Linked DNA regions of Homo sapiens. The protein of the gene in region 4 interacts with the protein of the main gene of each other region in a pairwise test. Each region holds a gene or a part of one and is shown on either strand. Other genes may lie near its edges. The genes, in order: ZNF34, STOX1, CSN2, NFYC, APOL4, PAX4 and SMAP1.

The links.
Region 1: the proteins of NFYC (region 4) and ZNF34 interact in a two-hybrid assay, tested with the Homo sapiens proteins (one large-scale study listed by BioGRID).
Region 2: the proteins of NFYC (region 4) and STOX1 interact in binary tests that used the Homo sapiens proteins (3 or more experiments, as listed by UniProt).
Region 3: the proteins of NFYC (region 4) and CSN2 interact in a two-hybrid assay, tested with the Homo sapiens proteins (one large-scale study listed by BioGRID and IntAct).
Region 5: the proteins of NFYC (region 4) and APOL4 interact in a two-hybrid assay, tested with the Homo sapiens proteins (one large-scale study listed by BioGRID).
Region 6: the proteins of NFYC (region 4) and PAX4 interact in a two-hybrid assay, tested with the Homo sapiens proteins (one large-scale study listed by BioGRID).
Region 7: the proteins of NFYC (region 4) and SMAP1 interact in binary tests that used the Homo sapiens proteins (3 or more experiments, as listed by UniProt).

The regions. Positions count from the first base shown.
Region 1 is NC_000008.11:144,774,150-144,777,459, forward strand, and holds part of ZNF34 (zinc finger protein 34), read right to left. Parts: coding exon 3,309-3,310; intron 457-3,308; coding exon 1-456. UniProt on the Homo sapiens protein: May be involved in transcriptional regulation.
Region 2 is NC_000010.11:68,890,031-68,893,530, reverse strand, and holds the end of STOX1 (storkhead-box protein 1), read right to left. Parts: intron 943-3,500; coding exon 795-942; 3' UTR 471-794; downstream 1-470.
Region 3 is NC_000004.12:69,962,641-69,967,219, forward strand, and holds the start of CSN2 (beta-casein isoform 1 precursor), read right to left. Parts: upstream 3,089-4,579; 5' UTR 3,041-3,088; intron 1-3,040. UniProt on the Homo sapiens protein: Important role in determination of the surface properties of the casein micelles.
Region 4 is NC_000001.11:40,767,983-40,771,995, reverse strand, and holds the end of NFYC (nuclear transcription factor Y subunit gamma), read right to left. Parts: intron 2,641-4,013; coding exon 2,581-2,640; intron 1,600-2,580; coding exon of another isoform or gene 1,288-1,599; coding exon 1,168-1,287; 3' UTR 393-1,167; downstream 1-392. UniProt on the Homo sapiens protein: Component of the sequence-specific heterotrimeric transcription factor (NF-Y) which specifically recognizes a 5'-CCAAT-3' box motif found in the promoters of its target genes.
Region 5 is NC_000022.11:36,198,824-36,203,356, forward strand, and holds the start of APOL4 (apolipoprotein L4), read right to left. Parts: upstream 2,987-4,533; 5' UTR 2,912-2,986; coding exon 2,877-2,911; intron 786-2,876; coding exon of another isoform or gene 733-785; intron 554-732; coding exon 507-553; intron 1-506. UniProt on the Homo sapiens protein: May play a role in lipid exchange and transport throughout the body. May participate in reverse cholesterol transport from peripheral cells to the liver.
Region 6 is NC_000007.14:127,615,327-127,619,934, forward strand, and holds the start of PAX4 (paired box protein Pax-4), read right to left. Parts: upstream 2,817-4,608; 5' UTR 2,636-2,816; intron 2,075-2,635; 5' UTR 1,949-2,074; intron 702-1,948; 5' UTR 603-701; coding exon 590-602; intron 206-589; coding exon 75-205; intron 1-74.
Region 7 is NC_000006.12:70,730,211-70,734,223, reverse strand, and holds part of SMAP1 (stromal membrane-associated protein 1), read right to left. Parts: intron 1,847-4,013; coding exon 1,713-1,846; intron 1-1,712. UniProt on the Homo sapiens protein: GTPase activating protein that acts on ARF6. Plays a role in clathrin-dependent endocytosis. May play a role in erythropoiesis.

The DNA.
Region 1 (3,310 bases), on a different chromosome or scaffold from region 4:
CAAGGTTGGCACTGTACCTGAATGTTTTCCCACAGTAACTGCAATAATGCAATTTTTTCCCAGTAGGAATTTTCTGATCTTCTTTAACAACTAAGTTTGCACTGAAGATTTCCCCAGAGTTACGAACTGTATTTGTTTTTTTTGACCTGTGTACACGCTTATGGTTGTTGAGATATGATCTCTGTTCAAAACTTTGCTCACATATATCACATTTGTGAGGTCTCTGATCAGGAACAGGTCTTGACAGCAACCTGAGGTTTCCCCCAGACTCCCTGCTGCTCTCCCCGTTGGTCAGTGTGACTGCCCTGGGGCCTCTCTGCTCCACTAGCTTTTCCAGGCTCCCCTCTGACTTACTGATGTGGTCACAGGCTTCTACTGGCTCAGATCCCTGGGGATCTTCCTCACCAAATGTCTCCTGTGAAGTCAACTCCTTGTACTCAGTTCTGGTCCCAAGAGCTGAAACAAAAAACAGAACATCTAAGGGTCACCTGCTCTGACTCTGGAAGGTAGGCATGAGATGCTGCTGGCCACCTGTGGGGAACCAATTTGATCATCTCCAAAGTCCCAACAGCCTTGCAAAGATAAGAGCCTGGAGCTCAGAGGCTTATGCAGCTCACCTGGGGCCACAGTCATACAGCCCTTCAAACATTCACTCCTTCCTTCCTTGATTTGACACTCACACAACAAACCTCTCCTGGGTGGCCACTCCCCAAGAATGGAGAGTGACAAGTACCCAAGTGGGGTCCTGCCACATGGCCGCTCAGAGACTGATACCAGCAGCCACAGTCAGGATTGATTAGTCCTGGCCCCTACTTGCCAGCTGAGTCACCTGAGGCAACAACTCACCTACCTTTCTGAGCCTTGGTTTCTCCATCTGTGACCACATGGCACTCTCATGAGAACAAAACAGATTAATACAACAGACTGACCATGAAGCACTCAGCCCAGTGCCCAGCACAGTGAGTTCCAGGTGCAAGCACCTCATGACTGCCACTTTCATTACTGCTCTCTTCCTAGTCCTAAGGGGTCTATCCTTCCACCCCTTGCCTGGCTCTGCACTGCACATGAACAGGTGCTGAACACCAATATCTGCCAAGATGTGCAGCAGACGGTGCTCACACACTACTACAGGAGCCTATGCTGGAGCTGCTGCTTTGGAGGACGGCTTGGCAACCTTATCTAAAGCTGATCTATGAAAATGCTGACTCAGTGACTCTGCTCCCAGGTACACACGCGCCAGAAATGTATTCCGGGCGCCAGAGAGAGACATGCACAAGAGTGTCCACAGCAGTTCCTGTACAACCCCAAACCTGGACAACTGAATGTCCTCCACAAGTAGAAGGGAACATAAGTTGTGGTGTGTTCATACAATAGAACAATGGCAACCAAACAGACCACACTGCTACTCCATGAAACACAAGCAGCTCTCACAGTGTTCAGCAAAAGATGCCCTGTGTGAGTCTACACAGAAAAATCCAAAGGAGGAAGCAGCCTCTTGTGACAGGAGTCAGAAAGAAGACCCCTGTGGGGAGCAGTGGGAAATGGCAGAGGAGAGCCAGGGAGCTCCTGGGGAGCGGAAACAGTCTGTATTTTAATCTGAAGGATGATTTTTCATAAAAATTCACTGAGTTATAAACTTAGGGTTTGTCCTATTTCTATAGATATTTACATTCAAATAAGCAAATTTACAAAATAAGAAGTCCTTTGAGCCAGCAGTTCCTTCCTCAGACACCATCAGACACATGCAAAAAGGTGACCATCAGAGCTATCCAATCTTTTGGCCTGCACTTGCACTGAAGACATGACTGAGACTCATGCGCACAGAAATGGAAACACATTCCGTGTCTGCACAGCAGAACACACTATCATTTCTGTTAAGAAGCAGTGTCAGCCAGGCACAGTGGCTGTAATCCCAGCACTTTGGGAGGCCAAGGCAGGCGGATCACAAGGTCAGGAGCTTGAGACCAGCCTGGCCAATACGGTGTAACCCCGTCTCTATTAAAAATACAAAAATTAGCCAGGCATGGTGGCGTGCACCTGTAGTCCCAGCTACTGGGGAGGCTGAGGCAAAAGAATTGCTTGAACCTGGGAGGCAGAGGTTGCAGTGAGCCGAGATCACACCACTGCCCTCCAGCCTGGGCAACAGAGCAAGACTCTGTCTCAAAAAAAAAAAAAAAGAATGGCTCACACCTATAATCCCAGTACTTTGGGAGGCCAAGGTGGGAGGATCGCTTGAGCCCAGGGGTTTGAGACCAGCCTGGTCAACACAGTGAAACCCTGTCTCTACTAAAAATACAAAAATTAGCCAGGCATGGCGGCAGGCACCTGTAGTCCCAGCTACTCAGGAGGCTGAGGCAGAATCGCTTGAAACCAGGAGGTGGAGGTTGCAGTGAACTAAGATTGCGCCACTGCACTCCAGCCTGGGTGACAGAGCGAGACTCTGTCTCAAAAAATAAAAAAGCAACAGCATCTGAGCCAGGTGCAGTGGCAGTGGCTCACACTTTAACTCCAGAACTTTGGAAGGCCAAGGCGAGAGGATCGCTTGAGCCTAGGAGTTCGAGACAAGCCTGGGCAACACAGTGAAACCTCGTCTCTGTAAAAAAATCAAAAAATTAGTGTGAGTGACACATGACATGCCTGTGGTCCCAGCTACTCGGGAGGCTGAGATGGGAGGATCGCTTAAGTGCAGAAGGTCAAGGCTGCAGTGAGCCATGATCATACCACTGCACTCCAGCCTGGGTGATAGAGGGCGACCCTGTCTCAAAAAAAAAAAAAAAAAAAAGCAGTGTCAGTACATAACAGTGGAAAGGCCAGTGCTAGAAAAGGAATAGCAGAAATATACTACAACACAACTATGTCTGGGTAGTGAGATTCAGGGTGATGTGTAGTCTCTCACTTTTCCGCAGTGTATTAATTTAGAAGAGAGGGGAATTAAATGATAGCTCCATCATTAGGCCCTCATTATCTGGCATCAGCTCTGGAGCGCAGGGTTCTGTGGGGTTCCGCAGACCCTAACAGCACCCCTGTTCTGCACCTACTCACTCCCCTCTACACGGGACCTTGCCTGGAATGTCCATTCCTATTTTCCACAGAAATGCTGCCCTGGAGAGATTCTGCTCAATAATCTCCCCACCAAGGTGCCCAGACTGAGAGGGGTCACCTGGGCTTCAGCAAAGGCCACTGTCAGGCCTCCTGTGCTAGCCCCGATGAATCTGGCCCACAAACTCCTGATTCATTAATCAGACACCCTGGACCCCAATAAAGGCTCGTTCGGTGACTTGAGTTGGGGAGCAGATCCCCTCACGCACCT
Region 2 (3,500 bases), on a different chromosome or scaffold from region 4:
CAGGAGAATGGCATGAACCTGGGAGGCAGAGGTTGCAGTGAGCCGAGATTGTGCGACTGCACTCCAGCCTGGGCAACAGAGCAAGACTCCATCTCAAAGAAGGCCTGAAATGTAGGGAGGAACCAGAGGAACAGTAGTACAGCCAGATGCCTCTTGCCACAGGAATTTTCGACATTGTCAGTCACATTGGGAACCATTTGTTCATGTCCAAGCTGGTCAAAGAGAAGCCCCTGGGCAGCAATGATTAAAGGAATTCTTGTTGCAGAGTAGCCAACACATTTATGTAAACTCTTTCTTGGTAATGATAAAGACCTAGGGTTGCATAGATATCTTGCAGCAGACACTGTTTTCTTGCAACAGACACTGCTTCAACACACACTGTTTTCTGATTTTGTGTTGAAATCTGGTGAGATCCACTTAACTTAGAACTCAATATTAGTGTAGGTTAAAAAAAAATTCACTACAGGAAGTAAATTGGCATTCTATATATTTGAGAAACTAATGTATAAAAATTCAAGATAATTACAATTGGAAGGGGACCAATAATTCCACTTTTTAATCGAAAATAATCTATATACTCCCAATAAACTCACAGTAAAATAAGCTTCAAAAAGCCTTAAGACACCAAAAGAGGAAAAAAAGCCAGTAATTAGAACAAAATGTGTAATGTGGTTAATAGTATAGATATGCTTGCCTTTAGACAATTCTTATATACTCAATTCTTACATGATTGAAAGATTCTGTAATAATGCTCTACCTTTTTATAAAGAAAAAAGTAGGTTTCCAAAAGAAAATTAAACGTTTATGACTGGAGTTAGCGGTAGTAAGGAATTAGATGTGAGTGGTTGACTGCTCTTTGTGCCTTCGACATTTTGCAGAAAATTCTGTCTTCTTTTTAGTCCATCCAAAATGACTGAATTATTAGATCCCAGACTCTGTGTCCTAAAGATATTAAAAATAACAGAATTATTGGCTTCGAAGGGAACTTGAATTTCTAACCAAGGCATTATACTTCCATTTGCTACTTTGAAGTAGTACATTTACTAATACAAAGGTACACTTATCAAATAAGTTAACCTTTAAAAATCCGAAGTGCTCTTTACATTTTAAAGGCTTCACAATAGCATCTCAATTATTTGACAGCTGCCTTCACAGAAGTTTATATTTTCTGAAAAACATCTCTTCTCAGATCTAGTATCAAGTATGTTCTAGTCAGAAACAGTAAGTTCCCCGAAAAACTTCCATATATCTGAAGTGGCCAATATCTTCCTGTGAAATTTATTACTTTTATGAGAAATCATATGGAAGAGAAAAGCAAATTATTATATTTTTAATATTACAATGTTCTTTTCTAGAAGGAACAAGCTATATTAGCCCATTATCTAACACATATGCCTTGCTTCAGCTAACTCACAATACTGTTTGGTAGGCTCTGTAATCCCAGCACTTCAGGAGGCCAAGACAGGCAGATCACTTGAGGCCAGGAGTTTGAGACTAGCCTGGACAACATGGTGAAACCCTGTCTCTACTAAAAATACAAAAATTAGCCAGGCATGCTGGTGCACACCTGTAATCTCAGCTACTCATGAGACTGAGGCATGAGAATCTCTTGAACCTATGAGGCAGAGGTTGCAGTGAGCCAAGATCGCACCCACTACACTCCAGCCTCAGCAACAGAGTGAGACTCTGTCACACACACAAAAAAAGTATTTTTGCTTTTTTTTTTTTTGAAACAGAGTCTCACTCTGTTGCCCAGGCTGGAGTGCAATGGTGCAGTCTTGGCCCACTGCAACCTCCGCCTTCCGGGTTCAAGTGATTCTCCTGCCTCAGCCTCCTGAGTAGCTGGGATTACAGGCGCGTGCCACCACGCCTGGCTAATTTTTGTATTTTTAGTACAGACGGGGTTTCACCATGTTGGTCAGGCTGGTCTTGAACTGCTGACCTCGTGATCCACCCGCTCCAGCCTCCCAAAGTGCTAGGATTACAGGCGTGAGCCACTGCGTCCAGCCTATTTTTGCTTTTCGACATTCCCTTTTCCCACTTTGCTACTCTCCATCAACTGTCCATTACATTAAAATATATCTCAAACATATTTCGTCTAATAAGTCTTTCTCTAAACAGCCCATCACTCAATTCCATCACTCTTTGACTGTTAAAGTCTCATGCTTTGTTCTTAAGTTCAACTTGCCTATGTTTATTGTTTGTCTCCCCAACTAAATTGTATACTTCCTGTAAGTAGAAACAATGTCTTGTTCATCTCTATCCCCCTAATCCTTATAACCATCATGGCACACAGTTGATGTTCAAATGTTACTTTCCTTTCCCTTTCCTCTAAATGCCTGTCAATTATAGCTAGCCTTTCAGGAAAGCATATTGCTTAAAAATAAGCAATCCTTAAGAAATTAAATTTCTCAAAATTTTGCAAATCAAAATTCCTAGTCACCTATCAAGGAGTAATGTCTCTCATCTGTTTTTGTTTTGTTTTTGCCACAGAGAAAGAAAAGGAACCCATGGCTTTTTGGTTTACACCACCATTGTTCACATTTGAAGACATGTTTTGATTATCTTAAATACTTAATAGCTGGGCATGGGGGCTCACACCTGTAATCCCAGCACTTTGGGAGGCTAAGGCAGGTAGATCACTTGAGGTCAGGAGTTTGAGACCAGCCTGGCCAACATGGTGAAAACCTCACCTCTACTAAAAATACAAAAATTAGCTGGGCGTGGTGGCGTGTGCCTGTAATCCCAGCTACTCAGGAGGCTGAGGCAGGAGAATCAATTGAACCCGGGAGGCAGAGGTTGCAGTGAGCTGAGATTGCGCTACTGCACTGCAGCCTGGGTGACAGAGCGAGACTCCATCTCAAAAAAAAAAAAAAAAAAAGAAAAGGTCTTGCACCCCCAATAAAGAAGTAATGATACGTTTTTAAAATGTAGATTTCTAGGAATATATCCTAAGAAAAAAACTCAGAAATGCCCACAAACATTTTTATGTAAAAATAACTCACTGCAGATTGATTTGTTAATAGCAAAAAATTGGGAATGATCTAAATGTCAAAGAAAGGAAAATAGGCTGGGCACAGTGGCTCATGCCTACAACCCTAGCACTTTGAGAGACCAAGATGGGAGAACTGTTTGAGCCCAGGAGTTTGAGACCAGCCTGGACAACATAGTGAGACCTCATTCTTAACAAAATAATAATAAGCAGCAGCAGCTGGGTGTGGTGGTGCAAGCCTGTGGTCCCAGCTACACAGGAGGCTGATTTGCTTGAGACCAGGAGGCCAAGGCTATAGTGAGCCCTGACTGAACCACTGTACTCTATCCTGGGCAACAGTGTGAGACCTTGTCTCTTAAAAAAAAAAAGGAAAATAATAGTTACATATATATATAGTCCACATAACAGAATGCTAAACAGCCATTAAAAAGAACAAGCTTGTGGCTCACGCCTGTAATCCCAGCCAAGGTGGGTGGATCACTTGAGACCAGGGAGGCCAAGGTGGGCA
Region 3 (4,579 bases), on a different chromosome or scaffold from region 4:
AACCTAGGCAATACCATTCAGGACATAGGCATGGGCAAGGACTTCATGTGTAAAAGACCAAAAGCAATGGCAACAAAAGCCAAAATTGACAAATGGGATCTAATTAAACTAAAGAACTTCTGCACAGCAAAAGAAACTACCATCAGAGTGAACAGGCAACCTGCAGAATGAGAGAAAATTTTTGCAATCTACTCATCTGACAAAGGGCTAATATCCAGAATCTACAATGAACTCCAACAAATTTACAAGAAAAAAACAAACAACCCCATCAAAAAGTGGGCAAAGGATATGAACAAACACTTCTCAAAAGAAGACATTTATACAGCCAAAAATCACATGAAAAAATGCTCATCATCACTGGCCATCAGAGAAATGCAAATCAAAACCACAATGAGATACCATCTCACACCAGTTAGAATGGCGATCATTAAAAAGTCAGGAAACAACAGGTGCTGGAGAGGATGTGGAGAAATAGGAACACTTTTACACTGTTGGTGGGACTGTAAACTAGTTCAACCATTGTGGAAGTCAGTGTGGCGATTCCTCAGGGATCTAGAGCTAGGAATACCATTTGACCTAGCCATCCCATTACTGGGTATATACCCAAAGGATTATAAATCATGCTGCTATAAAGACACATACACATGTATGTTTATTGCGGCACTATTCACAATAGCAAAGACTTGGAACCAACCCAAATGTCCAACAATGATAGACTGGATTAAGAAAATGTGGCACATATACACCATGGAATACTATGCAGCCATAAAAAATGATGAGTTCATGTCCTTTGTAGGGACATGGATGAAGCTGGAAACCATCATTCTCAGCAAACTATCGCAAGGACAAAAAAACCAAACACCACATGTTCTCACTCATAGGTGGGAATTGAACAATGGGAACACACGGACACAGGAAGGGGAACATCACACACCGGGGCTGTTGTGGGGTGGGGGGAGTGGGGAGGGATAGCATTAGGAGATATACCTAATGTTAAATGACGTGTTAATGGGTGCAGCACACCAACATGGCACATGTATACATATGTAACAAACCTGCACTTTGTGCACATGTACCCTAAAACTTAAAGTATAATAATAATAATTTCAAAAGACAAATAAAATTTAAAAAAAGATTTATTCATTAACTTAAAAATATTTCTTTAGAATCTGTTCTTGCCAGACACTGTCTAGGGACCAGGACCGCAGCAATGAACAAAATATTACAGTCCTGATATTACTCCCTCATGGAGCCTCAGTTCTACTGGAAGAGACTGATCAAGAAAATGTGTACAAAAAAGTCACATTTTATTTTTACCTTTTTTCTTTTCACTAAACGGTTACCATGACTATTTTAGTTTATTTCTCCTCATTTCCAATAAGACTGAGGTTTTCATTTTAACACTTTCCTTATTTGTGTCACTATCCAGAGACTTTATTGGACTATTGAGTTTGTTTCTTCTCCGTTTATATTCATCTTCCCCACATAGCTAATAATGTCTGTTCTCCTTTATGCCACATGACTTTAGATATTGTACACTAGGCTTCTTCTCTTCTCTTTATTGAAATGTACACACGATTCTCTTGATGATCCGCCAAGGGGTCAGAGCCTCTTGCCCACTGCTAAGCTTGGGACTACCTCTTCTTGTGAAATATATGTTAATATTTTTGACCAAAATATACTAAATCATCTCCTTGTTATGTGTTCTTACATTTTTTTGTAATTTATTTCAAAATAATGTTTGTGCCACAATATTACTCACCACTCAAATCTTCATTCTCAGATATTGAAACTCAATTTTTGAACTAAATTTTTGAACTAAAATACTTCATCAAAAAAGTCTTTAATTTATTTGAGAGATGTTCTTTTCAATATTTGAAGGTTGAACATAATTCTATTACAGAAAACAAATATTTTTTCTAGATTTTTTATGAATGTTAATTAAGTTTTTATTAATTTTACTTTGCCTAAGACCACTATAAGTTCCCAAATTTTTATGTCAGGGTTCAGAAACAGAATATAACACTCTATTATATATAATTACACATAGGGAAGATCCCACAGCATTTTCTATATTTTATAAGTAATATAAACTTTACTAGTTTTATTACTAATCTACTAATATATATAATAATTTTATATACGAATGTATAATTACAATGCTAATTTATATACTAATATACTAATATATACTAATACTAATTATACTAGTTTTTATACTCATTTCTATACTATAAATATACTACATACTGGTATACTTTTATATACTAATTTTTAAGCCAGAGCTTCATTATCAACTGGTACACTCTAAGCTACTTTTTCTTTTATATCATCTATTATCTTTGTTTATGGTTTCCAAGTCTTTTCTACCCCATTAAGAATTTTCTTACAAAGTAAACCACATTGTTTCTTTTTTACTTAATTCTGTATTTCTGTCTCATTTTAATATTGTTTTGAAATATTACAAACTAGATAATAAACTGGGAAGTTTGAGGCTCTAGACAAGTTTGATGAGTAAACTCTTCTAAAAACATTGTTTATAAACATTTAAAGTAGTAAATGCCCCCATACCATTCCCTCCATTTCTCAACTCAGTATGCTACTGCTGTAAACTACCTGCTGGACAAAGCTTTTCCAGTAATTATTTATCTACCCATACTATAATTGAAGTATAATTCTTTTTATAACTGTGATATGCTAAATCAAATTGGAAGATTAATTAAAAAAATGAATCTCCTTTTAATATTAACTATGAACTAGCCTCATACTATATATATATATATATATATATATATATATATATATGCATAAAATTAGCTATTATATTTTCTTAAACTCATGAAGGCTATATGTCATTACCAAATTCTTCTGGGCACTTCTATCTTTTTTAGCCTAAGTGTTAAAAATAATCTCAGTACTACCTTAAATACTTTTATTTCAAACACTATATTTTAAGTAACTACGTTCCTTCTATAGCTCAAGCTACTTTGAAATACATGGTTAGGAGAAGATACAACAAATTTGTATCTAAAATTCTTACCGTTTTTCCAAGATTGAAGAGAAGTGAAGGTAGTGCTGGATGGATGATGGTCCATCAGCTTCTGTGACTGTTTATATACTATATTTAATGACACACTAATTTTGTGATTTGAAATAAGATCAATAGCGAGCTTTAATTCCAAGAAGTCCACATGATTAGAAAATGATTTCTGCCTATTACATATCCCCAGAAATTCTGGGCATCATTATAACAAGGGAACAATTCACAAGTTGATAAAAGAAACCTGTCCAGGAAATGCAATTATTCAATAACAAAAGACAATGACTGGAGGACAGTGATACTCTGGCCCTGTCCCCAAGTTATTATGGACATAATTAGGTCTCTTTAGGGCCTAGTGGGGCCTTGAGATTTCAGTTGTGGGAAAATTGTATGTGAACGCTAGATATACACAGGGCTTCACAAAGGCCACAGTTTCATGTGAACCTAAGCAGTTGTTAGTGCTTTATGCTGAAATGAAGAAACTGACAAGATAACAAGTCCATGATGGTAGCTTAGTTATGTGAGGCAAACTGTTTCTCCCAGGGCCACTTGATTTGGAAAAAAAAATAATTTAGTTAAAACAAATATTTTGTACACAAGATAAATAAACTTTCCTCTGTAATGGAATAACTTGAAGAGGGAATCTGGGTGGCTGGTATAGGCAAAATCTTCAGTAAATCTGTAATAAAAATTTTGCAAAGTATCACGGAGTTTTATTTACCTTTTAATATTGATTATCTCTTTTCAGGTCAAGCATAATTATGATAATATTAATGATGGGTTTTTTTGCTTAGTTCTAACCCTTTGCCAAGCACTAAGCAAAGATATTATCTTGTATAATCTGCACAAGAACATCATGAGGTAGCTCTCCTCTTCATATTTAGGTTGAGAAAACAGAGATGCCAAAAGGTTAAGTAACTTGCTCAAAACCATATTGTTAATGGCAAAGATACCAGTTGGACTCAGATCTGTCTGACTACATGTGATTCTGTTTGATCACATGTGAGTCTCAGAGCCCATGTTTTAACCTTCTGATAATTTTTTATAAAATTTATCTATCAATGTAGCATTTGGTTGAAATATGTACAATTTAATTATGCCTGAATTGGAAAAGTAGGGCCTCTGTGCTGTGTGTGGCAGGGGAGCTTGCCATTAAGGAACTGCTCTTTTAGTTGAGCCTTAGAGAATGAGTAGAATTTTGCGAGATGATTAAATGGGGATAGATATTTTGGCTGAAGAAAACACAGGAACTGAAAGAGCAACATACCAGTTTGAGGATATTCAGAGGGCATACATTGCAAGTTACAATTGCAGAGGTTTGATAGAATCAGATCATGGATGACTGTGAATGTCAGGCATGCACTGTGACATAATTCAGTGGAAGCAAATATATTAGAGATTTGAAAGAAAAATGGATTGTAAAATTTCTTGGATTTCATGACTTTATGACAACAAATCAGGTAACCTAGTAAAGGAAGTTGTTATGTTATGTTATTGCAGTAGCCTAAGACAGACATTATGATGATCTCAAGTAGGGAA
Region 4 (4,013 bases):
CAGGAGTTCAAGACCAGCCAGGGCAATACAGTGAAACCGTGTCTCTACAAATAAAAAATAAAAAAAATTAGCTGGGCATGGTGGTACCTGACTGTAGTCCTAGCAATTCAGGAGGCTGGGGTGGGAGGATTGCTTGAGCCCAGGAGATTGATGCTGCAGTGAGCAGTGATCACACCACTGCACTCCAGCCTGGGCAACAGAGCCAGAAAAAAAAAGATCGGCTAAGGACCTCAGTTTGAATTAGGTACACAGCATTAAGTTCCCTTAGCTTTGAACATCTCCTTCTCACAAGGGTGGCCCTCTCTCCCAGACACACAAACTGAGGGCAAATGAACCTTTCCAAGCAAAGTGGCCCCATGAATGCCCCCAGACACAGAAACCCAGACTCTAAATTATCTAAAATGAGATTTATTGCATTTCATGCAGCTTGAAGTCCATGCAAAGGAGACTAGCACAGTTTTTAATGCATTTAAAAAATAAAAGGGAGGTGGGCAGCAAACACACAAAGTCCTAGTTTCCTGGGTCCCTGGGAGAAAAGAGTGTGGCAATGAATCCACCCACTCTCCACAGGGAATAAATCTGTCTCTTAAATGCAAAGAATGTTTCCATGGCCTCTGGATGCAAATACACAGAGCTCTGGGGTCAGAGCAAGGGATGGGGAGAGGACCACGAGTGAAAAAGCAGCTACACACATTCACCTAATTCCATCTGAGGGCAGAACAACGTGGCAAGTCTTGGGGGTAGCAGCTGTTCCCAGAGTCAAGAAATACCGTACACCCCTGGGGAGATTTGCTCCTAAAAAGAAGTGGCAGTAACAAACAAAAAAAAAAGAAAAACAAAAGGAGAAATATTTCTTCAACCACACTCTTCAAGAAAATGCCATAAATATGTTATTTAATATTTTAATTTCATAGCATTGGACACACACTCAACATATTGAAATATTGATTCCTTAGAGAAAAAAATGGAAAAAAAGGAAACAAAAAATATTGCATCTTTCTGCTGGAGAATCTCGGCCCCCAGGCATGGGGTGTAGTGCACCAGTGTCCTAGCCTGCAGGAGGCGCTGAGGTCGGCCGGGTCCTCTGGGGAGGAAGGCTGTGCCCATTGCCTGGGGCTGTATGGCAAAAATTGTGTTGGGTGTCCTTGGCCTTGCCAGCTCAGGCCCTCAGTCGCCGGTCACCTGGGGGGCCTGCCCGTCGGAGGGCTGGTTGGCTGACTGGATGAACATGGGCTGGGCGAGGTCCTGGCCCGCAGGCATGGTGACTTGCTGGATCTGGTAGAGCTGCTGCGAGGGGTGGAGAGGAGAGAGTGAGGTCATCCCTGGGAGAGGGGCATGCAGCTCCCTATGGGTCTCGAGCTGGTTGGGGGTCCCAGATACCTCAACCACCACCCACTGCAAGGCGTCAGAAGGAGGAGGGGAAGTGGAGCTCTGCTGGGGTTGGGAGCAGCAGACACAGGAGGCACCAGCCCGGTGTGAGGGGGGGTGTGTGGTGGGCAGGGAAGAGGTGCAGGGAGTTGAATTTCCTGTGGCTTTCACTTCTCTGGGCTCTGCCTCTCCCGTTAGCTCAGAGACTCGAGCTTGCTGCACGCTGTTCCTCTGTGGCAAACACAAGCAATTCGAACCACTGTACCAGCAGCTTGGAAGTCAGCATTTCCCCAACTCTTGGTAATCTACACTGGCAGGGGCAGTAGGATTACCCCCTCCTCTCCTTCTTTTCTCAGAATATCTGGCTCAGGTTGAAACTAAACTGAATTTGAATTTTCTCCATGGACCCTGCTAAGGAGGTGGCCTGGTATTAAACACTTAACTATAGCCAAGACGCTCCAGGGGTGGAGAAGATACTCACACAGCCACTTAGGAAGGTCAGGGCTAATTGACTACTTGGTTTCCCAGGCGCTCCCCAAAGAAGCCAAAAGCCAAGCCCTCATGGGAGCCCTGGCATGTAAGCCTAGCATGTGGTGCTGGCAGAAGCCAGAGGTGGGTCCTGATGCCAGCTCTTCTCCCTTTTGAGCAGCAGAGGGCACAAGTTTGGGCATGTCATCCTATCATGTCCTCAGTGGTCTCTGGGACTGTACTGTGAGGGGAAAGCAGAGGGAAAAGGGAAGATTCTCTCCTCGCATGGACTGAAAATGACTGAATTTCAGGCACCCAGAGAGCTCAAGAGGTCACGTGTTCTCTGCGTCTCAACAGTCCATGCTATTAAAACAGCATCATGGCTTAGAGGGGAAAAAAATACAGTTCTAGAGAGGGAAACAGGAAACCTGCTCTCTAGTCCTGGCTCTGCAATGAACATCTAGGGGAGCATGGACAAGGCACTTCCCATCTCCAGGGTTCAGTTTACTCATCTGTAAAATGGCAATTTGGGCTACATGTCTAAGATTATTTTAGTTCCCACTAAGTCTATAAAACTAAAGGATAGGTGCCCTGATTTAAATACCGTACTTGTTTTAACAATTTCTGTCCACTCACTGTTAGTAGAGGACAGGACAGTTGCCCTAACCATCCAAACCCAGATACTACCTGCTACCCTGCCCCGCAAATCCTCACCCTCTGCCCAGCCCAGGTTGGGTACCCTACCTGTCCATCTGTGAACTGGCTGAACTGCTGCTGTCCTTGCTGGACCTCTGTCTGTGTAATCTGTAAGAATCAAGATGGTAGAGTTGGTATGTCAGCTGCAGGGTCTGATCCACCAGCCCACCACCCAAAAGAGGGTCATAAAGATCAAATGAGACAATGCATATAAAGTGCCCAGCAGGTGCTCAATGGGTAGTAAGCAAGCAAGCACCCCTCCTAATCTAGCACTGATGGCTACGTCAAGAGTTGGCAGCACAAAGTGACATCGAGAATCCTGGAGCACATAATAGATAGTTCCCACACCCATCTCTCTAATGAATGCCTACTCCCTCAACCACCCACTCATCTCAAACTCTGAGGCTCAAACAGAACACATGGACCCTAGGTGCTATGGTTTGGGGTAGAAGTCCTAAGAGTCAGTCTTTCAGCCAGTGAAGGCGGACTGCAAAGTGTCAGACAAAGTGGTAAGTGGCCTCTTTCATTCTTGGAAGGTGGGCTCCAAACCAAACCCGTATCACCCAGATCATCTGACTGGAATATGAAACACCCTGGCGAGCAAGTGGCCTTGGTCCCAGCAGTCCTCATGGCAAACCTATGAAGTACTTTTTCCGAGAGAGGCACTGTGCAGCCCTCTGGGCCAAAGGAGGGGAGGAGAAAAGGGGAGGGACCGGGAGTGGAACAAAGACAACATTTATCACAAGTACTTAAAATCTTATGTGTGGACTGTGAATGGATTTTAGATAAATGTACTGACATGTAGAACTGCATATATAATGACAACTGCTGGGAGCAGCTCGGTAAACTAGAAAGAAGACTGCGGTGTGCATGCACATGTGTTCCTATGGAACATTTGGCCAGCAGTGTCCTCTGTGTACCATTTCCTGGAATCATCACAGCCAGCCTGCAAGACAAGGACTGTCCTCTCAAATGTCCTCACCATGGCCAAAAACAACCCCTGCAGGCCTACCCATGAGGCTATGAGGAACAAGAAAGGGAACAGGTATGACAGGCTTCATGACTATTTTTTACTATTGTTCCTTATTTTGGTCCTTTTCCTTCCAACAGCCTATAAGATGCCTGAGGGCAGGAGCCCATACAAAGTTAGTATTCCAGAAATGTTGCAGAATAAACAAGTGAGCCTGAGACAAATGGAAAATATTCCACATAGATAAGAAGGTTAACTGCTCTGTGGCCAGCAGGATTGCCATTCATATTAGCTGAGATTTCATTTACCTTTACATTTTATTTACATATTATTCATTCAGCTTCATTCAACAAACATTTACTGAGCACCTACTAAGTATTAGGTTGTCATAATTACAACCTGTTGTTACAAAGATTTTCATTGCCTTCAGCTACCACTTTCTTGCTTCTCCCCAGCCTCTCCCATTTTTTGGCTTTAGTTCTGTTCCCAAAACGGACTTTTTTTAATTTTT
Region 5 (4,533 bases), on a different chromosome or scaffold from region 4:
TCACTCTACCCACAGGGCCACTCAGAGCAGAGGGGCTGGTGCAGGGCAAGAGCTGGAGGGAGGGGACCGGCCTCTGCTGGAAACACCCCAGGGTCAGCCAGGAGCAGAGAGGGAGGTGAGAGGTCAGGGCTGCTGGTCAACCTCCTCTCCCACCCCTCCGCTACTCCTGGCCAACCCTCAAAAGCCAACCCTGCTGTTTCCATTTCCCCAAGGCTGTCCTGCCCCACTTAAGTCATTTGCTAGGTGTCAGGGTAGGGAGGAAGTGGGCACCTGGGCCATGACCCGCTGAGGAGAGGTCAGGATGCAGATGCCCCCCAGAACCCTGGGTCAGGGGACTCCACGTGGCCTCTCTTGGGGCTTGGGGCAGCCTCATCAGCCACCTCCGTCTGGGTTCCGTTGGGGCTCACTCAGCCTTGAAGACACCACCCTCCATTCTAGCTGTGGGTAGGAACCAGCCAGGGAAGAGGAGGCGAGCCTACCAGCAGCCAGGTCTCTGAAAGGCTTACCTTGGAACTGTCCAGCCACTGTCCAGCCTGGATGGTTTTGCTGCACCCTTGAGGAAGAGAAAACAAATTGTGGGATTGAATGTGAGCCACCTATGGGCAAAGGGAGGCTTGAACAGCTGGGCCTCTGCAGATCCCTCTGAGGTGGCAGCAAATGCCAAGACCAACCTAACCCAGATTCTTTCTCTATCACCAAGTCCCCATCATCTGCTATTTACAGACACTCAACTCATTCCAGCTCCCTCTTCCCTCACTCTCACACCAAGGAAAAGTCCGCTTGTCCTGTTGGAGAATGAGGAGAAGATAATCAGAGGAGGGGCAGCCATCTGATCATTACAGAAACTACACAGTCTATACGCAGAAATAGAGATGGGAAGGAACGTTCTAACAATGACCGGAAACATGTGTGACAACTAATTGATGATAGCCAGTCTGTATTGAGTGTCTGTGATGTGCAGGGCTTCTTTTTTTATTTTTATTTTTATTTATTTATATTTTTTGAGACGGAGTCTCGCTCTGTCGTCCAGGTGGAGTGCAGTGGCGCGATCTCGGCTCACTGCAAGCGCCGCCTCCCAGGTTCACGCCATTCTCTTGCCTCAGCCTCTCGAGTAGCTGGGACTACAGGTGCCCGTCGCCACATTCGGCTAATTTTTTGTATTTTCAGTAGAGAAGGGGTTTCACCGTGTTAGCCAGGATGGTCTCGATCTCCTGACCTCATGATCAGCCCGTCTCGGCCTCCCAAAGTGCTGGGATTACAGGCGTGAGCGGTCGCGCCGGGCCTGTGATGTGCAGGGCTTCTGACATGTGTCTCATTCAATGATCACACACAGCCCGGGAGATGGGTACCACTTTCCCATTTGAACACAGAGGAATCCACAAAAGTTAGGGAACTTGCCAGTGTTTTCTATTGCTAGAGCCAGGACTTCTGCTTCAACCTCATGTCTTCAATGACTGTGCTCTACTCCCTTAAATATACAATATTGAGTCATGTATACACGCTCATGGTAAATGACTCCTCATTGCAAATCCATGTCTCACACTCCGTGCTCAACTTTTCGTCTTGGTGAATTCACTGGTGCTGCAGTGGACAGCCTGTGTCCCCCTTGCTTCTCTAAGATCCTTTGTCCCACAAAGACCTGGATCCTGCCAGATGCCGGCCTAGCCCCTGCTGTGGCTGCCGAGCCCTCCTGGCGCTGCCCTGTTCCCTCTGCTGTCCTCCCCTAGCTGATGGACCTTAGGGTGTTTCTAATTCTTCATGTAAATTATGCTACAAAGAACACCCTCCTTCACGTAAAACTGCCCACATTTGATTTTATTTCCTTAAGATATTTGTAGGAGTAGAATGACTAGGTCAGAGGGTATCAACATCTCAAAATGTTTTATACCTAGAGCCACACTACATGCAAATTGTACCAATTCACACTCAAACTAGCAGTATATGAAGATGCCCATTCTTTCAGTCTTACTGGCTCTCAGTAGTCTCTTTATCAGGACAAAAAATATATACACAACATGTAAATTTGAGAACTAAATATCTTGTTATCAATACCAATTAGTACAAACTTTAAGGCACGAAGGTAGCAGTTGAGATGTGAAGCACTGAACAAAGGAGAAGGAGGATTAATATTGTCATTTTTTAAAGATGGAAGTTAAGAAATACTGGGTACAACTGAGGGTATAAGAAAGTTGTAAGTAAATTGTTTACAGCTACAAAGTTGCTAATGGAAGACATAAAACTGGTGATAGAATGTTAGGAAAAGGTGGAGAGGAGAGATAGAGGGAGGGTACAAATAAGATGAAAATGACTAATAATGATACTATAAATAATAACAATACCATTTCAGGCCCATCCCAGTTAGGGGCGGCTCCAAGCATTACCATTGTTCTTTTCTCACCGTGTGTCTCTGCGCACTCCCTGGCACACCCACTTCCAGCAGCTGGTCTTTGTTTGCAGACTTTATTTTAACAGCTCAGTGGTTCCCGGGCCCCCTGATGGGGTTCCATCCTCCAGCTCTCATACTAAAGCCCCCTCCTCAAAAGCCACTCGCCTCCCTCTTTCCCTTTCCTGCCTTTGTCTCAGGGTTCAGACACACAGATGTCTGTCTTCTGGGGCCCCCATGCAACAAGGGTAAAAGGGGGACCCAGTCCTGGGCAGCATTCACCAGGGGAGTATGCAGAGGGGCGTCTGGGCGCTTCTTGCTGTAAGGGACAGGGGTGACAGGAGAGGGGCATCCCTTCGCCTTCTTCCTGCTTTGTTCACTGTGTGACCCCCTAGGCCAAGGCAACCATCTCAACACCATGAGCCAGTAGAACTGGGAGGACCAGGAGAGAGCAGAGGAGCAGGAGGGCAGAGAGCTGGGGCCTCGGACTCACCCGACGCTTGTGATGAGCTGCACCCAGGATCCCATCCTCCTTGGTCATTGTTGGCCTGGCTCAGACGCTGATCTGGGGCCTCTGCTGAATGTTGAGGCTGGATACTGACTGTTAGCCTCAACTAGGACACAGTGCGTCCCCTCTAGGCGAGTCTACCAGTTGGTCAATTCCGGGAAGTGATTTTGGTTCCTAGAAAAACCCACATGGCTCCTGGCCCAGCCCAAGCCCTGCCCAATTGTGCAGCCCAGACAGGGAGCCCTCCCTCCCACCTCAGGGCTCTGAGCCAAGCTCACCAGATGCAGACGACAAAGATTTTCAGCAAAGCAGCTCCCTCCATGTCGCTGCGGGGCCTCCTCCTTGGGCAGGAAAAGAGGGGTTGAGACAGTGTGCTCCTCCTGAGAAATCACCATTTTCATTTCATTTTTAATAAACCGTTTTGCTGTGTCACCCAGGCTGCAGGGCTTTGACGCCATCCTAGCTCATTGCTGCCTAGATCTGCTGGGCTCAAGTGATCTTCCTCCTTCAACCTTCTGAGTAGCTGGGACTACAGGTGCACGCTACCATGCTGGGCTAATTTGTTAATTTTTGATTTCATAGAGACAGCATCTCCTGTGTTTCTCAGGCTGTCTTGAACTCCTGGCCTCAAGTGATCTTCCCGCCTCTGCCTCCCACAGCACTGGGATTACAGGCTTCAGCTATAGTGCTTTCTATCTTGATGGGCATCTCTTTTTGGTGAAGAAAAATCAGGCCGGGAGCGGTGGCTCACGCCTGTAATCCCAGCACTTTGGGAGGCCGAGGCAGGCAGATCACAAGGTCAGGAGATGGAGACCATCCTGGCTAACATGGTGAAACCCCATCTCTACTAAAAATACAAAAATTAGCCGAGTGTAGTGGCGGGCGCCTGTAGTCCCAGCTACTCGGGAGGCTGAGGCAGGAGAATGGTGTGAACCCGGGAGGCGGAGCTTGCAGTGAGCAGAGATTGCGCCACTGCACTCCAGCCTGGGCAACAGAGCGAGACTCCATCTCAGAAAAAAGAAAAAAAAAAAAAGAAAAAGAAAAATAAGACCACGACTCAGATTTCACAGAAATTACCCCCCTGATTTCATGGACTTTTGGCAGCTCTATCAGGTTTCTGAGAGGGGAAAATCTTAGGCTGGGAGGGGAGGTGACTTGCCCAGAGTCGCACAGCTCTTGGAGAGCAGACGGGAAGCCAACATCTGCCCTTGTGACTCTGCTATTGAAGAAAAACGGGTGATTTTAGTAATCCAACAGTGTCCAGGTTTGATTCTGCTTCTACAAACACAGAGATCTAAGCTCTCACTCCTGTAGTTACACTCACAATTCCACAGGTGGCTTTTGAATCTCATGATTACAAAGCTGGCGTCATGCCACAGGCACCATTCTGCAATGCGACCTTCTCACTCCCCTGTCTCAGCCATGTTTCCTATTGCGGGATCTGGCCAGCAGCCCCCAGTGCAACGGGGCTCTCTCTTTGCTCCTAGGCGGATCGGCAGGTTGAGAAATAATAGACACACACAAGATAGTGAAAGCTGGGTCCAGGGGGGTCACCGCCTTCTGGTCAACAATGCACTGGATATACCAGCATTTATTATTCAGTTTAGTGAGGGCGGGGGTAGGTTAGTGAGGGATTTAGGGT
Region 6 (4,608 bases), on a different chromosome or scaffold from region 4:
GGCTCTTGCCTTCAGAGGAGCCCTTTCTCCCTGCTTCCTGTCCCCATCACTGGGTAAAGGTGCTGGCCCATTACCTTAAGGATCCGTGAGATGTCACAGGGCCGCATTCCACTGACTGCTAGCCGCACAATCTGCTGCCGGGTATCCAGAGGCAGGGGCCGGCCATTCACAAAGAGCCCCCCAAGCTGGTTCATGCTGCTGATCCCTGGGCGTGAGACAGAGGTATCCACACACCACCTCTCCCACTGCCCTGCCCGCCTGTGGAGAGGGTCACTCAGGCCCCTCCAGCCTGGCTTCCCACCACCGAGTGCATCCTCTCCTGGGAGACTGCATCCTTGCTGCCCCCAGGCTGTCAACGCAAGCTGCTTTCTTTGAGAGCTGGCTCACGGGTGAGTCTTTGTTCCTTGCCCATACCCGCCAACTCTCCTGATCTAAGGGAAGCAGGACAGGGCAGGAAGGGAGGGACTGGAAAAAGCTTCCCCAGAACATTGGCCAATAGCAGATGAAACAGTTGATGGAAGCAAAGCCCTGAGGTCTTCCCCTGTCTCTGTTGTCCTCCCTGTCTTCCCACTTCCCCCAGGCTCCTCACCGTCCTGATGCATGCTCCAGGCTGACCCTCCTCAGAAGGATGAGACTCCAGCTGGGAAGGCTGGGAAGGGAAGTTCCTTCTAGGAGCTCCTTTTCCAGCTTGGGGGCTGGCTCTGCAATAATGGGGGGTTATTTGGGTGAGGTCTTTTGCTTGAAATGGTCCTGGGAGGTAGTGTTTTGTGATAGAGGGTCAGGTTCCTAAAATTTGCCAGTGGGTTGGCTAAAATCAGAAAATTCTAATTCCTTTTATTTAAACCTTTGTGTGATAAAAACTAAAACACTGCAGGTTGGCTGAGGACTGGATCTTTCTTGAAGTCCTGATAAGGGGCTGGGAGGATTGAGAGGGTTCTCCTTTCCTACACATTCATTAGAAAAGTTTGGGGAGGTAGAAAGGGATAATGCTTTCAAATGCTCAAGCTTTCCCCTTTCCAAATGGACAGCTGTTGTCTCCAGCTGCTCCTAAGCCTTCTCAGCCCTGGAAGACACACCCGAGCCAGAGATTCTGGGGTCCTCAAGTTCAGGGGTCCACCTTCACTATTAGGCAGTCCTCGGTTGGGCTCTCCAAACTGCCACCCAAATGCTGCACTTCAGAAAGGCTTGCTCCTGTTTTTTTATACTCTCCAGGAAGCTCTAGGGAAACTGGGACTCAGCTCTAACCCACCAGGCATTGAGGCTCTGGTCCTACACACTGGGCATAGAGATGAACACGCCTGAAGAGCCGGCTTCTCCTAGGAGACGCATCTCTTAGCATCTCTAACCTGCTGAGATTGTTCATTCTGTTCATTCTCTGAAGAGTTCTAGATCTCACAGTGAAGCTTCAATTTCAGAGACGATGTTTCTGGTATCAGACACTCATTCATTCAACTAACATTTATCAAAGGCATATTGAAGGGAATGAGAAGCAGGAGAAGACTGTCCGCTGAGCAACATAGAAACCGTCATGAGCCCAAGCGAGTCTCTGAGCAGCAAGGGACACAGGTCCCACAGGCCACCATACCTCTTCTACTTTCATTAGTAATCAATGGGAGTTGAAGATGCCTCCTTTCATGCCTGGAACCCTGGTAGTGCTGGAGATCACCCCAAGGAACAGCTTATGCACAGAACTTTCTTATAATAAGCGTGCCATCTGGGCTTAGTTAATTCATCTGCAGTTGTATGCTGAATAAGATATTAAGCATGAGCACATTGCTGGTTGTTCAGGATGAAGGCAGTAAACAGAAAAGGGTAAAGTCTTTGCTCTCCAACACATTACAGAGCAACTGGAGAAAAGAGACTAGCACCAGTGAAACAAAGAATTACAAAGAGTTTGGAATCCAGAGTCTACTTATTAAGTTCAGTCGCTAAATTGGCTTTTACTCACTTGTTTCTAGGTAGGTAGAGGCACAGACCCCTTCAAATTCTCATCTTTCCAAAAAGTCGGGAAAGAAGGCAGAGGTTTTCCAAAGAGAAAACTGAGGCACAGATTGGCATTGCCACAAGTCAGGGGCTGTCCAGAGAGTAAAATTCAAGGTTTAGAAGCCAGTTCCTCATCAGAAGCTACAATTTCTGGCTCCTAATCCTGGGCTCTCTTTCTCTGCTCCCACCCCTGTTTCATGTTTGTGTAATTGCCACAAAAACAATGGAGAGAGGAGAATCAAGCAGGGACTGTAAAGGGCTGTGCCAAGACAGGGTGAAGGAGCTCAAAATATCAGCCAAACCCTAAATCCTTGATGGGACTCAGTTCTCCTAAGTGACCAGAATTCAAAAGAGCAGTAGGGATGCAGGTTCAGTATCCAAACCTAAATAATCTCCAAACCTAAATCATTATGCCCCAACTCACAAACAGAAACCCCATTCCCAATAGCCACAACACACATTCCCAACATTCATATTAACATGTCTGAAAAAATAACTGGTGCTTGCAAGATGGAAAAACAGGAAAGGGGGTGGAAGGGGCAGGAGGGTTGTAGCTGCAAAGGCAGAGTGGGAGAGAAGTTGGGTTTGGCCACACAGAGGCATGGAGACAGCATGAGAGGCAGGGCAGACAATGAGCCTGCAGGTGAGCTACCTGTGTGGAGGAAATGAGGTGGGAGCTTCAGTGGGAGGTCTCAGCTTCTGAGACCCCTGCAGGCTCCAGGGGTGGTGATGATCTGGTCTTGGTAACAGCCTCCACTCTGCTCCTGCTTCAGTCCTGCCAGGGGGTCCAGAGCTATAGAGAGCCCGTGCTCAAGAGCAGAGGGCAGCCTTCTGGGAGTAGCCAGTGATGTCACAGGCCATGAGCAGAGGAGAGAGGAGGAGGGAGGTGTGCATGGGCTGACTGACACCAGCCCTGAGGCAGGGCAAACCACAGCCAATGACCCACTGTGTCCTTCCATGGGGAATCCTCAGAGCCCACTTTGTGTCCACCTACCACCCGGAAGCAGGGACAGAGCCATTCTCAGACAGGCAAAAGTGTACCCACACAAGCACCAGTACTCCTGAAGGGCATGCTGAGCATGGAAGATGGGGAACTTCAGGTTGTGTTCTTAAGGCTTTGAATACACAGAAGCAAAAAGATGCCTTCCCGAACCACCAACACAGCTTCCCAGCCAGAATGCACATACATGGGCTTTGGGGTCAACTCCTGAGTCGTGTGTGTTGCTATAAAAGATAAATGAGTATACAGACTGTTGCCTAAATACTGACTGAGTTGGCTCCTAGCACTCTGAGATAATGAGAGTGAATGGAGAAGAGTGTGAAGAGTGTGTGTCACCTAGCACCAGCTGTCCCCAGAGAGTGTCCTAACCAATTCTCCAATTGACTCCTTGACTGAGGTGACACCAAGGGTGAATTCTTGCCTGGAAATGGAAGGATCCTGGACTTCAGAACACTGACAATGGTAGTGGTGGTGGAAATGAGCCTCAGGATAGTCAGAGATGCATGTGGGTGTTTATAAGGAGGCTTGCAGCAGGATTTTCCTTCTTCCATCTTTAGATGTTAGCAGGCTCCATTCTGTTAGGGATTTGATGCTTTTAGACTCTAAGTTAGTAATGGCACTGCTGTTTCCACAAAAGACACCACAGGTTATCTGGGTCATTGGCGAGGTCAGAGGTATCAGTAGCTGGGCAGGTGGTGCCTGTGGAGTGGGATGCTGAAAGTGAAACACAGCCTCTAGTGCATGTAAATTTTGTTGCCAGTCATCAGGGTCTTGGGCAGATGGTCTTTGGGTCCATTCCACACCTCAGAGTCTGTGAAACCATTGCAAAAGTTAGACTGGAAGTAAGCAGGGTGTAGGGCAATAAGACTAGTCCCAGAAATCAGAGAATGGAAGACGTATGTCATTGGTAAATGTTTTGAGGTTTTGGGGGTGAAAGTGGTTGTTGTGCATTCAGCTTGATCCTAGGGTTGGGAACTCTTGCTCTCAAAGGCCAAATATCACATAAGTGAGTTTTCCACTTTACCCTGATACATACTCTCTTCCTCTTCCACCCTCCTCCAGCATCCTCAGACTGGTCTTGGGGTACAGGGGAGACTGCAGAGGGTGATTTCAGGACCTCGGGCAGGATAGCATTTGCCCAAGTGTCCTTACAGCCCATTCCATCCCCGGGGCAGCTGGGGACTGCTGGTCACTCTACTTAGCCATGCTTGGGTGGGAGGAGGTCCCCAGTAAGGCCTGTGGTAGCCCTGCTCCTAGTCCCCCATTCCTGCCTCATCCCTCCCCGCTAGATCTGCCCCTGCGTCTAGGGGCTCAAGGCTTATGTCCTGACCAGCTATTCCTATAGACAGCTGCATGAGGGTGGAGATAGGGGTATCAGGGGGAGCAGGGACAAGCCCTAGCAGATGGTGGTGGCAGCGATTTACCCCATAAACTACCCTCTCCCTCCGCCTTTATGACGCGCTCTTGGGTCTGAACAAACAGAGGCTTTCGACCCAGAGGTGATGGGGGAGGGAAAAGTGGTAAAGGGCCCTGGCAGGGGGGCCTAGAGAGCCCAAAGGCTCTGCCACTCAGCCCTCTGCCCAGCGCGCTAGACTGTTTGAGGAGCAAATATCTGCCTTCACTGT
Region 7 (4,013 bases), on a different chromosome or scaffold from region 4:
CAGTGAGCAGACATCACACCACTGCACTCCAGCCTGAGCAATAGCATGAGTGAGACTCCGTCTCAAAAAAAAAAAGATGGGAAGAGCAGGGGAGGGGGGCCAGACAGAGCAATTCCTATCAAGAAGTTGGCAAATGCAATCAAATAATGTTCAAATACAATTTCAAATATTATTATTTAATAACTGTTTTTAAAATCCTTACATTGTAAAAAAAAAAAAATCCAATATATTGCCATGTACTTGTAACCTATGCCAAAGAAAACCAGTGAACTGCAGCCCTCTGATTACAAAATTCTACTCTAAGCTATACAGCTGCCCATCTCAAATAATTTGCTATTCATTTCCTCTCAACAACCTAATTGAGAAAAATATTTCTGAATAACTGAACTGTTGAAGGATCTCGTGTTTTATCCTTAGTTTGAAATAAGCCATTAAAAAAGCAGGATACTTCGGTCGTGAATGCTTTGTACCTCCATAACCCATTACAAACACCAAGTTATACTGTCAAGCTACACCTCACACGTTTCTTGAAAAAGAGTTACAACATCAGCTGGGCATGGTGGTGCATGCCTATAGTCACAGCTACTTGGAAGGCTGACATGGGAGAATCGCTTGAGTCCAAGAGTTTGAGACCAGCCTGGGCAACATAGCAAGACCCTGTCTCAAACAAACAAAAAAAGACTTACAACATCATGACATCTGTTACCATATTCTACAGAGATACTAAGAACACTGCCTTACAGGAAGTGTTTAAAAAGCTCTGCTTCTTTGATATAACTAGTATGTTTTCTCCTCAAGGATCTTGAAAGTACATAAAAGATTGCATTTCCCTTTATGCTCTAGCCAGCGAAAAGCTCAAAAACTAATTTAAGATGGAACCAAATAAATTATGCTTGACTTTATAGCCTGAAGATCTCCATTCTGTTTTTCTACCTTTACTTCACCCCATTCATGTAAACTATTGGGTTAAGATTCTGAGATGTATCACTGAGTCTCAACCACATATATTTATGTATTTAGCACTTCATAGTGACTTAAAAGTAATTTCAAAAGGGCATAAATAAGTGGTGTAACTTCACTGTGAATTACATAATAAGACCAGTAGAAGTACTCATTTTTACAATAGTGGCCAACCTTAAAGATAAAAAGTAAGATTTTGAGAATTTAAGACTGTCACATTGGGAAAATGGCAAACTTTTAAAACTACAAATCTACCTCTAGCAGAGTTAAACCACTCATAAGTAAGTTTAGGTTGGTCATAAGAACATTTGTTCACTGGGTTGTCTTACAACTTCTGGGCCTTGTCTGAAAACTAAGAACACCTCAGAACAGAAAGGAAATTACTCAAGTCCATTTTTAGGCTACAGGTGGTTTTTTATTTTATCTTTACCCAGGCTCCCTCCACTGAAAAAAAAATAAAACAAACTATGGAATTATACTGGCAAATTTTATCAACAAGAGAAATGATACTTTAAAAACACTTTAAAATCAACATTTTAGAAAGTATAGATTAAAAACTGACTTTACTATAGACACAAAATGAAATAAACATCTGTGAACTGAAAATTCAAATATTCCAATTTTATACGTGGCATATGCCATTTCAACATACAAAACTACTTTTCAATGTTAATCCTTAGATGCAAGAAGGGTTAAATATTTTTAAATCATTTTAAATATTTTAAATAATTTCTTGGTAACGTCATGTTTACCTGTATCTGTTCTGCTGTCCATTGGTCTAGGTTGACTGATTTGACCCTGGATATATGAACCCCAAGATTTCTATGAATTCCAGCACATCTGATGCAAATAAACACACCAATATTCCAGGAAGCCCATCGAGGACCTAATTTAGAAGAAGAAACCACAAAAAAAAGCAAATGTTAAAAACAAAAATAAACATAACAGCATATTAGAAGCATTCTCGGTTTTATATAATTATAATGGAAGCTTACAGAAGTCACATGCTCAAATTTTCAAATGGTACTGGCGGCAGTCTGCTAAGAAGACATGTGTCTTGGCAATCTTTAAGAACCTTATTGATTTTACTCATTTTGCTTTCCTAGAAACTTCCCCTCCACTCTAAGATTTTAAAACTAATTTATATAAACAGCTTCTTCACTTAGCATATTTGAATCAGGAATAGTAATAATACCCTACTGTAAAAATAATTTCTTTATTAAATGCATAAGATATGCACAAGATTAACAACAAATAAAAAATCAAAGACATTTCAAAAATTAAATGTAGAAATTAATAAGAAAAAGACAACCAGCCCAATGCGAAATAAGCAAAAAGATATGAATGAATAATTCACAGAAGAAATTTATGGCCAATAAGCATGAAAATATGCACAGTCTCACTGGTAATTAGTGAAAGTGCTCTTTAACTCTACAGTTACTTCCATTTTGCACCCAACATTCTGGAAAAAAAAATTTTTAACTACTAATTGTTGGCAAGAAGGGGAAACAAGGACTGCTTCAAAAAGCGTTGCATCAACATGGCTAAATCTCAAATATAACACTGACATTAAAAAAGGTCACAGATGAATATATACAGTGTGAAACCATTTACATAAATTGAAAAATATGTAAAATAATAGCATACTGCATATTAATTAAATGTATCTACAAATTTCGTGAAACTGAGGCAGGTAACTGGTGGTAAGGAAAGAGGATGTGATCAGGGAAAAGTTCACTGTGGGCTTGGAGAGCAATAGTAGCACTCAATTGCTAAGCTGTATGGCAAGAATATAAACTTTTGTTTCAGTAACATATAATACGCATATATGAACTGAGGTGTGCTACAAAATGTTAGTTCTTCAGTTCATGGTCAAAAAGTTCTGAAAAACACTGCCAAAAAACTCACATATGAATACAAGAATACAAGTCTTAGCTGTACAAGTCTTCATACCTTTGAATATATTCTTTCATAATAATTTTAAAAATTGCTTCAGATTTTTTCACATATTGCTTGTAAAATTAATAAAGTAAAAATGGAAAAATAAAAGCAATATCTGGAAAATATGCCAAATATTCAGAATCATATTACTAACAGACTTCTATAAATTAGTTGATTATGAAAAATGTATGTATATAGTAAGAGATATCAATAAAAATCAAGTAGCTGGACACAGTGGCTCATGCCTGTAATCCCAGCACTTTGGGAGGCCAAGGCAGGCGGATCACTTGAGGTCAGGAGTTTGAGAACAGCCTGGCCAACCTGGTGAAATCCGGTCTCTACTAAAAATACAAAAATTAGCCAGGCATGGTGGCAGGTGCCTGTAATACCAGCTCCTCAGGAGGCTGAGGCAAGAGAATCACTTGAACCTCAGAGGCAGAGATTGCAGTGAGTCGAGATCCCGCCACTGTACTCCAGCCTGGGTGACAGAGAGAGACTCTGTATCAAAAAATTAAAAATTAAAAATAAAGCTTTTTTTAAACATAGCCTTCTGTTTTAAGTACATGCTGTTTATCTAAAGGTGACACTGCTCTACACAACAACATTAAAGCTAGTAAGTACAATATAGTAAAATTAAAAATAATGCCCCCCCAAATTCCTTAATTACACAGGAGGAAGATTATGCACATGCAACTTATCCTCAAATATCCTGCTTTTAAATTTGAGAAATTACATCTATAAACTGGCAAACATACATCTGGGACATCTGTGACAACTCTAGATAGAGCTGCCTCCCCCAGTTACTTTCCACTCTGTCTCATCATTTCTAACACAACAATTTACAACGTTATCTATCTGTTTTGAAGCTTACACATTAAGGTAAATAGTTACAGAGCAATAGCTGGAGGGTTTAATTATTTTTAGCAAGTAAGTCTCAAACTAAGAAAGGTTAAACAGATATGCAGTGGGCCAGAAACAGTGGCTCACACCTATAATCCCTGCACTTGGGAAGCCAAGGTGAGAGGATAACTTGAGGCCAGGAGTTTTGAGACCAGCCTGGGTAACATAGTGAAACCACAGTGGTCTCTAATAAAAATTGAAAACTACACACC